Linked DNA regions of Homo sapiens: region 2 is reported to be linked to region 1. The links are microRNA targets in miRTarBase. Many come from high-throughput screens and were not tested one by one. Region 1 holds a microRNA gene; the other region holds the end of a gene's coding sequence.

Region 1 (5,204 bases):
TGAGTGGTTGGTCCTTTGTACTTAACTGTAATTTTAAGGGTTTTTTGTTTTTGTTTTTTTGAGACAGGGTCTCGCTCTGTAACCCAGGCTAGAGTACATTGGCACCATCTCTGCTCACTGCAACCTCTGCCTTCCTGGTTCAAGTGATTCTCCTGCCTCAGCTTAGAGTAGCTGTGATTACAGGTGCAAGCCACTACACCTGGCTACTTTTGTATTTCTAGTAGAGATGGTGTTTTACCATGTTTGTTTGACCATGTTGGTCAGGATTGTCTCAAACTTCTGGCTTCAAGTGATCTCCCCACCTGGGCCACCCTAAGAGCTGGGAATTCAGGCATGAGCCACCATGCCCGGCTGAGTCTGAAGATTTTTTTGAGACAGATTTTCACTCTTGTTGCCCAGGCTGGAGTGCAAAGGTGCAACCTTGGCTCACTACAACCTTTGCCTCTTGGGTTCAAGTGATTCTTCTGCCTCAGCCTCCAGAGTAGCTGGGATTACCGGCGCCCACCACTACGCCGGGCTAATCTTTTGTATTTGTAGTAGAGATGGGAGTTTTCCCACGTTGTCCAGGATGGTCTCGAACTCCTAACCTCAGATGATCTGCCCACCTTGGCCTCCCAAATTGCTGGGATTACAGGAGTGAGCCACCGAGCCTAGCCTGACTTTGAGGATTTTTTTTTTTTTATTACACTTTAAGTTTTAGGGTACATGTGCACATTGTGCAGGTTAGTTACATATGTATACATGTGCCATGCTGGTGCGCTGCACCCACTAACTCGTCATCTAGCATTAGGTATATCTCCCAATGCTATCCCTCCCCCCTCCCCCCACCCCACCACGGTCCCCAGAGTGTGATATTCCCCTTCCTGTGTCCATGTGATCTCATTGTTCAATTCCCACCTATGAGTGAGAATATGCAGTGTTTGGTTTTTTGTTCTTGCGATAGTTTACTGAGAATGATTTCCAATTTCATCCATGTCCCTACAAAGGACATGAACTCATCATTTTTTATGGCTGCATAGTATTCCATGGTGTATATGTGCCACATTTTCTTAATCCAGTCTATCATTGTTGGACATTTGGGTTGGTTTCAACCATTGTGGAAGTCAGTGTGGCGATTCCTCAGGGATCTAGAACTAGAAATACCATTTGACCCAGCCATCCCATTACTGGGTATATAACCCAAATGACTATAAATCATGCTGCTATAAAGACACATGCACACGTATGTTTATTGCGGCATTATTCACAATAGCAAAGACTTTGAGGATTTTTAATGAGACAAGCAAAATTACAGGAAAACCAATGGGATAATTCAGACAAGGATAACTCACCTCTGAAAAAGAGGAGAAGTGAAAAGCTCTATCATTGCTCAGCCTAAAAATCGGCGTGTTAATTAGCTGTTCATGGTGGTGCACAGCTTTAATCCCAGCTACTCAGGAGGCTGAGGCAGAATCACCTGAACCCGGGAGGCGGAGGTTGCAGTGAGCCAAGATCACGCCAATGCATGCCAGTCTGGGCCAGATTCCGTCTCAAAACAAAACAAAAATCTGCATGTTAATATCTCACTCAGGGCAGGGTGAAAAGGGGAGTGCTAGGGGCTAGAAGTTGCATTGTTACTTGGCATAAATCTTGGTGGCCATGCGAAGGCATACACCTATAGGGACTTGAATAAAAACGGCATGAATAGGGAACATTTGGTCTGGGATGCCACATTCAGCCATTCAGCGTACAGTGCCTTTCTCAAGGAGGTGTCGTTTATGTGAACTAAAATATAAATTTCACCTTTCTGAGAAGAGTAATGTACAGCATGCACTGCATATGTGGTGTCCCTAGGGATGGGGCTGTAGCTGCGAGCATGGTGATGCCTGTTTTGCATCCTGTGCACCCACTCCTCAGTGCTGGGCTACTTCAAGGAACTTTTTGTGCCTTCTAGACGACTACACATAAGAACTGTGGACTCCTGAGAAAACGCATGCACTTTGGTTCCTTAAGAATTTATCTACTTTTGCCAAATGAGGCTTGGCTCAAATAAGAAATACGTTGTATAGAGGCCACAGCCATTCTTCGTCAGCTGAGACATTTTACTCCAGATTCCTCAATTCTCTAAACTCTTTTCACTGATCAACTAGTCATCATTTGCAAGGATTGTCCTTTAGTGCTCCCAAAAGGCTCTCCTGCCTCTCAGGTCCCTTCATTGCTGATCCACAGTGTCCATTTTCTGTCAAAGACTAAAACATTTTCTCATTGACTGTTAAAATACCTTTCAAAGCCTTCAGTCACCAATTTATGAAGGGTTAAGCATAGTCCACCCAAGAATATTTCACCCTTTTTAATTATCTTTTTTCCCCATTTTTTAAGAGTATATTTGAAGAATGGAAGGGTATGACAGAATTGATACTCAAGAGATATCTCCTAGGCTTCTCTCCCCATTTTCTTTTGGTGACGCTTAACTCTTAACCTAATGGAGAGAAATAGAGGGAAATAAACACACACACACACACACACACACACACACACACACACACACAGAGAGAGAGAGAGAGAGAGAGAGAGGAGAGAGAGAGAGAGAGAACATGCAAGAGAAAGACAAGCACCAGACTATGTAAGGCCATCTGCAGCATTAATCTAGTATACATGTTTGGGAAGTAGGTTATAAATAAGCTATTTATATTGTGGAAATGTGTAAAAAATGTTATAAATAGTAAGTGATTAATACAATTTTGATTCCAACTGAAACAGAGGCTACAGCATAAACACCGAAAGGGAAAAACTATAAAAAACAATTACTATATGGTTACAGGCAGGATTTTGGTTTATGTTTTTTTAGATTCAGAATGTATGAATATGTATAAGACCATTAATGTCTGAAAGTAAAAAAAACAGTTGAAGTATCTTTTCCATAATGAAAAACATTGTAATAATAGAATACATACAATCTTTTTGGGGTGGGGGCAACATTCTGAACAGTAAAAAAATTTTGTCACTTTGCAATACTGTATGTACATAGAATTTTCCAAAGTGATAACTGTTTTTAGTATATAATTTCTAAAACTGTATTATAGTGATGCATGTTTACTTATATAACTTTAAGTGATATCTTAAAATGAAATAAAAGAGAATTTAGTTGTTATCATACCTCTGTTATGATTTCTCAAAAGAATAGTATATTTACTGGTATTTGTGTTTTTTTTCAGTGAAATACTGTTTTGTATTACTCAGCCTTTTTTCTTCCAATTTATTAAGGTTTAACTGACATAAAAATCATATTTAAGGTGTACAACATGACGTTTTGATATATGTGTACATTATGCAATGATTAAATCAAGCTAATTGAAAAATAAAATATGAACATAAAATATTTATTTGAAACTCTAAGAAAAAATTACAAGATCTCTGTGGTAGGCAGAGTAACAGCCCCCGCCCAAACAATGTTCACAATGTAACCCCTGAACTCGTAAGCATCATATTTTATTGTAGAAGAAAATTTGTAGATGTTATTAAATATTTTGAGATTGGGATTATCCTAGATTATCTAGGTGAGCCCAACATTATCACAAGGGCCCTTATACGTTGGAGAAAGGTGGTTAGAATGAGAAACATTGCAAAATACTATAGTATTGACTAGAGGTAGAGGTAAAGGCCATGAGCCAAAGAATGGAGAAAGTAACTAGAATCTTCTAAAGACAATCAAGTAGATTCTCCTCTAGAGCCAACAGAAGGAACAAAGCCCTGCCAATGCCTTCATTTTAGCCAAGAGAAACCTAATTTAGATTTTTGACCTTTAGACTCTAATATAATAAATTTGTGTTGTTGTAAACAACTAAATCTGTGGCAATTTATTACAGTATCAATAGAAACCCCAAAACATCTGTATGCTAAAACTGTAAATATACTAAAAAAAAATACTAATTAAGTGGCGAGGACTATCATATTTATGGATTGAAGGATTCAAATCTATAGACTTTTAGACTTCCATTAATCTCTAGAAGTAATACAATTCCAACCAATGTCCCAGAAAAATATTTGTAGACATTAGCAAGATGATTCTAAAACTGATATAAAAGGCGAATAAACTAGAATATCCAAAACAATCTGAAAGAGAATCACAAAGCTGGAAAATTTACACTTGTAATTTCCAGATTTACTGTCTAATTAGATTACCCAATGTACTGTGGTACTGAAGAAAGGATGGACAAATAGAAGGACCAGAAATATCCATATATGTCACCAATTCATTTTGACTAAGCTGTAAAGTCAATCTAATGAAGAAATGATAGTATTTAAACAGTAAGATGCTGGGAAATGTGAGATATATAAAAAATATGAACCTTGATCGTATTTCAAACCACATACAGAAATTAACACAATCTTAAGCCAAAACGTCAAACTATCAAATTGCATGAAAAAAATGAGAGAAAATATTTTTGACCATTAAATTATTACATATGATATCAAAATATAAAAATAAAATTTATTAAAAATAAATTGATAAAATAGACTTTGAAAAAATTAAGACGTCTTCAAATAAGACCACTGAGATAATAAAAAGGCAAATTACAGAATAAAAATATTTATCACATTATTGAATTACATATAACATATATCCAGCATAAATAACTACATATAATTTAGCACTCCTGTGTATACTAAGTATTTTACTAGTTACTTTGTAAAAATTATCTGTGTTTTAAAATGTCAGTTCTGTTAGCATGTGTTGAAGCTGTTTTGATCTGTGTTGTAGTCCTAGCACATGAAAAACCCTGGTTTAATGTTTACGTATTCATTCTGGACCTTCCTTGCTATACTATAATTTCGTCACCTCGTTAATGTGAATATATTAGTTTATCCTCATAATATATAATAAATTAAAATGTGTTCAGCTTAGGAGTCAGGAACATGGAAAGGCAAGAACTCTAACTGAACAGGCTGAGTATGTATAGATTCAGGAAGCTCAAAAGAGGAAAAATAACTGCCAAAAACAACTTTTACACCTGTCCGAGTTATTCTTATATCAGAATTCTGCCAAAGAAAACTACATTTTTATTGATGTATTTCTTTTTCAGACCATGAGGATAATTCCTATTTATTACAGAACAATGTGGAAAGCACATACAAGGTGTGAAAAACATGAATAGCAGTAATGAAATAATTCCAGTAACATCATAATGTGGATACAGTGTTTGATAAAATTTAGATGTGGATCT
Region 2 (5,204 bases), not on the chromosome of region 1:
AGTTGTCGTCTATTGAAGTTTCCAGTGTTGGGGGGAGATTAAGTCAACAGAGAAAGTTCCAAAAATAAAAAAGCCCCAATTATTATAGTAGCTTCTTAACACCTCAGCTGTGAGTCCCTTTTCCTCTCCAGTCCATGGTATGCAATGTTGGGGTGTTAGTCTCAGGGAGCTGTGTCATTACGACACTGAGGTGCACAGCCTCACAGCAGCATCTCCCTTCAGCTCCTCCCATATTCATTGTGCCTCTTGCCCTCGGGCCTGGCTTCAGCTACAGCATCTCCCAAGGATGTGCCTGCCTCCTCCTGCTTATGGCCTTTGTCCTGGCTGCTTCCTCTCCCTGCAATGTTCTTCTTTGCCTGCATTGTCAGATGCTGCCCGGCTTTCAGGATTCAGCTCATGCGCTTTGACGTGCACAGCCCCTCTTAATCCTCCCCAGCACCCTTTGATGTAAACACTGTTATACCCATTTACAGATTACACAAATGTGTGTGTGTAATGTGTTTATGTGTGTGTAAACATACCCATTTTACAGATACAGTGATAGAGCAAACAGAGGCACAGAGATTTTAAGAATTTGTCTAATATCACGCAAGATGTAAATCAAGGAGCTTATTCCAAAGCCCATGCTCTCAACCACCATCCAGTATCAGCAGAGTTGAAAGCAGCGTCTGATTGAGACATACGTTGAAGCTATAGTGTAAACTCTCAAAAGCAAGACATGTAAGGAAGCTTTGCTAAATCATTTTTCTCTGTCTTTCCTCTTTGGGTCCAGGTTGAAGTAAAGCCATATGTGCTGGATGATCAGATGTGTGATGAGTGCCAGGGCACACGCTGTGGTGGGAAGTTTGCCCCGTTCTTCTGTGCCAACGTCACCTGTCTGCAGTATTACTGTGAATACTGCTGGGCGAGCATACATTCCCGAGCCGGGCGGGAGTTCCACAAACCGCTGGTGAAGGAGGGAGGCGACCGCCCTCGTCACGTCCCGTTCCGCTGGAGCTGAGCCACGGGCCGACCCAGCCACAAGTACTGGAGTAGATAACAAGGAGGGAAAAGAGAGGGCACTGCCTCAGGGCTTACAGTGTTCTGGAAATCTGTGCATTCGTTCTCGATTTTTAAAGAAGAATTGGGTCTTTTTATTATTATTATTATTATTTACAGTCATATTACTGAACTCAGTGTCCAGTATAATGCAGAATTGCAGAGTGTAGAATGGTACTGATTTGCACTTTGATTCACACCTTTGTCTGCTTGGTACCTTAATTTTTTATACCTGATTTGTCACTCGTGACAGTATGTAGACTGCCATTCTCATCAGCGGCCGTCAGGCTACTGTCTGTGATTCTTTTGTTTGTTGTTGTGGTGTTGTTCTGATTGTTTTGAACTGGAGCATGCACTTATTTTCAGAAACTTAGAGAGTTGCCCCTAGGACAAGACTTACCAAAGGTAATACTCGTGAGTAGGTGGCAGATGTAGCAAAAACTTCACAACAATTCAGCAATCATTAGCTCGGGTCACTTAGAGTAAGGATAACCCTTCATGAAAATAAGCCTTTAGTTGCTCTCTATTTTGACTTGTAAGGATACCTCATAAGCTGGATCTTTTATTTTTCCTTCATGTTTGATTTTTGTTTTGCCGAGGATTTTGGTTAGATCTTTTAGTATTATGTAAATTTATGCTGCAATAGCTTTTGCTGCTATTAAAATGGTATTATTAATACCATAATACTCTATTCAGGCTAGGATATCAATTAAACACAAAAACCCAACAACACACTTTTGTGATTTTAGGGATAGAGTCAGCTGCCGAACGGAGATCAGAATAGACTTCAGAAAGCTTCGGTGGAAGGTCACTATTTCTGACTGCATGTTTACTTAATCAGGTTGCTGCATGCAATAAATTTTATATCCAATGTCTAGTATAAAACGTTCCCACAATGCACAAATTAAGAATCTATATAAGCTATAAAAATACTCATTTTTTAAAAAAAGTTTTTTTCATTCAAAGAATTGGTAATTGACCGGAGGAAGGCATGCCTCAATAAATGGAATGCTCTGAATGGGAAGAGCCCATAACAGAATGACCTATATTACAACCGATATAAAACCTAGGTGTAGGATATTCTTCAAGCAAATTTGTGGATGGTAGATGAAGTACTTTGCGGTGCTCTGTTATATATTGTGAAATTTATTTTATATAGTAAAGTGATTATGTCTAACTGTGATCAAACTTAACTGTTTAAAGCCTCTGTCAGACATTAATGAACTTGACAGTTCATAACTGATATATTATAAACTAACACATGAGCTCTTAGTTACAATCTCTTAGTGCTTGCACCATTTTACATAGCTTCAGACCTTGTCCAGAAAACCAAAGAGCTCATCTTAGCTTACAAACACTAAGAATATATACAGGATATAGAGATAAGTTGTCAGATTGACAAACTAGGCACATTTTTAAGAAAGTTGTGTAATGGTGATGCTAAAGAAATGTCTGTACAAAATAAGATGGCCTGGGCAGAGTTGGTTGTCTGAGTGAGAAACTAACTACTTAATTCCCTGGATTTATCCTGTTAAGCTTGAGTAGAATGAAGGCCTGCTAGCACTAGCGTGGTCTAGAATGAAGGCCTGCTAGCACTAGCGTGGACATTTTTCTAGCATTCACCCTTGGGCTGCAGATAGTAATATATAAACACACACAATGATTGCAAGACTATGTAAATCTTTTTTTAATCTTCTTCCTATGTTTTGGAATTCTGGGGACAATCTGACTGGATATGACACTGCAGAATAGATTTAAGTCGCTGTGTTTTCTGTGCTGTGATGTCCTTGTACTGTCTTAAGTTAGTGTTGCTTGTTTTTGTTTTGTTCTCCCATGTTTAGTTGCAATTACTGGCTCTCAAGCTATAGTTTGTTTTCAAAAAGGAAAAACAAAATAGTTTTTTACTGGATTAAAAATGCTTATTTTAGAATCCTCCCCTTTTTGAGGCTTTTTGGTAATAATTGCTTTTTTCCAGCCCAGGTGTGGTTTTGTTTGTTTTTTTCTATGTTTGTGGGTTTTTTTTCATCTGTACAAGAAATTTTGTTATGCACTACTACTTTTTGTATTCTAGACAGTTTTCAAAAGTTGGCAGATTTTTTTTTTTGTTTTTAAGGAAAAAGGCATGCTTTCTGACTGACATGATCTTTTGCAATACCTCAATTTTGAAATATAGGAAAGAAAATGATATTTTCTAAGTAAGTTTATTCAGAAAAATATATATTAATTTAATTCTGCAAGAAAATGATTTAACAGATGGGTAACTTTATTTTTTTCATGCTTATTTGTGTTTTTTGAAAATGAAGAAGTTAGAGCTTTATAACTATAATATTAAAGATCATATCTAACCTACAGAAATCTACCTAATTATGTGAAAGAAGCAAAACTTTTTGAAGAAGCACCCCTCTTTCATGTATTAAAATAACACTGAGATTTTTTTAAAAGCTGGAAGATTGTACAGCATAAAGCTAAAGTGAAGGCAAAAAACATTGTCCTGAAGAATAGGTTACAAAAAATAAACTCCATTTGGTGCTGAAAGTTGTGAATAGATGGTGGAAACTACTTTCCCTTAATTTGTATATTTCTAATCAAGTGTTGATTGTGCGCGACTGACCAGGATTGTGAAAGAGTTCTTCTGTTTGTATTTTTTTAAAGAGAACTTTTTTAGTTTATTAAATTATAACATGTTCCCTTTTGTTTTGTAAATAAATGTGCCCCCAAGTTGTTAATGTTATATTAAAAGAGAGGGTCCTTCAAAAAAATTATTTTTTAAAACACAGAGGTGTTCTGACCTGCAACTTGACTGGGAAGCCCCTGGGTAACACAGGTCCTGCTGTGGCCTTTCCTTGGTGTGACACTTGAACTAGTCGATTTTTTGAAGGCTATAACCTAACCTCGACTATTTGTTGTTATGTGCAATACTGTTTGTACTGTTTGTATAAAAAATAGAAAAAAAAAAGAAAAGAAAAAAGGCATAAATCTTTATTGCAGATTTATTTTCATTGCAAACTTTAGACATTGTGATTCACTGAAATCATTTTTCTACTGTCAAATATGTACCTTTTCTTCATGCTGGTATTTTTTCAATAGTAATGTAGCCTTTGTACTGAGACAAATTTTCATTGTTATTTTTAGAAAGATTTTTTGCTAAGAAAAAAATTAAACATATTTACATATTTTTCATTTTATTTCGTATTTTCTTTAAGGAGTGCTTTCTCAATCATTAATAGAGTTGTTTCTGGGAGGGACTTTCATATCTGGTCAATGTCATAATATTATTTTGTATTTTTATTGGAATAAATTAATTTTATGATGCTAATTCTTTAAAAGTTTATTTTTTTCATTTTCAGTTATTTTTGAAGCTAAAACCTTTGTAATATTGTTACTAAAGTGTCTAGTTTTTTGAAATGCAAAGCTTTATGTATTAACTTGCTGATGTGGTTTACAATAGTGTGACAACGATGAAAATGCTTGGTTATGTAAAGTGATTGGAAATGTAATGGATAATTGGGTAATAAAATGACAGAATGAGCAGAACATGTGAGATTTTGAGAAGCCTTTTCCTTTATCACAGTGGTTTAGTGTAAGACTAGGGATGTCACAGTGCAGTTCTCTAGGGATGTCACGGTGGATTTATACAACACCAGGTGCAGCCAAACCTGTGGCCCTGAGAATGAAGTCACCCAACCGAAGTACCACTGGGTTTAAAATCTGGCTAAGTCAACAGAATGTTTCATTGCTTTTTCCCCTCTAACTCGTCATTATGTCGTGTGTGTGTGTGTGTGTGTGAGAGAGAGAGAGAGAGAGAGAGAGAAAAACTGCCACCAACTGCTGTCCTTGTGTGAGACAGTGCCTTTCTCCCAGGCCGAATCTTTTATGTGCACTGACAGTGGTGATATCGGAGTCATACAGGAAGTTGCTAAGAGGACACGGCTTTCGTGGTGTACTGCAGACCTCACCTGCAGGGTCTCACTCATGCTGCCTCCCTGTAAGGCTCAGTTGGTGGCACTGAGGAAGCACACTCGGATGTCACCACTGTCTGTGGACCCTGACTATGTGTCGGGTTGCATCTTCCTCCACACCCATGCCTGCTTCCTGTTCTGGTGCCCCTTGCCTTTCATTGTGGCAACTGCGTGCATGATCTGTCTGCCTTTCTGCTGCTGCTTTTC

The links. Region 1 holds the annotated microRNA hsa-miR-513c-3p (UAAAUUUCACCUUUCUGAGAAGA, at 1,773-1,795, shown strand). A microRNA usually pairs through its seed, bases 2 to 8, with sites in the 3' UTR of a target mRNA and lowers its output. Matches are read on the target gene's strand: a 7mer-m8 pairs with bases 2 to 8, a 7mer-A1 pairs with bases 2 to 7 and ends in A, and an 8mer does both.
Region 2: miRTarBase lists CPEB3 as a target of hsa-miR-513c-3p. Seed matches in the 3' UTR shown: 7mer-A1 at 1,667-1,673, 8mer at 2,180-2,187 and 7mer-m8 at 3,073-3,079.

Annotation. Positions count from the first base shown.
Region 1 is chrX:147,186,308-147,191,511 of GRCh38, reverse strand. MIR513C (microRNA 513c) reads left to right here and starts at 1,725; the gene lies at 1,725-1,808. The region is part of intron 1 of LOC105373347 (periphilin-1); the gene reads right to left.
Region 2 is chr10:92,048,008-92,053,211 of GRCh38, reverse strand. CPEB3 (cytoplasmic polyadenylation element binding protein 3) reads left to right here. Exons shown (of 10, transcript NM_014912.5): 10 at 773-5,204. The coding sequence ends at 1,000. Among named protein-coding and RNA genes, the nearest start is that of BTAF1, 130 kb to the right of the region's middle.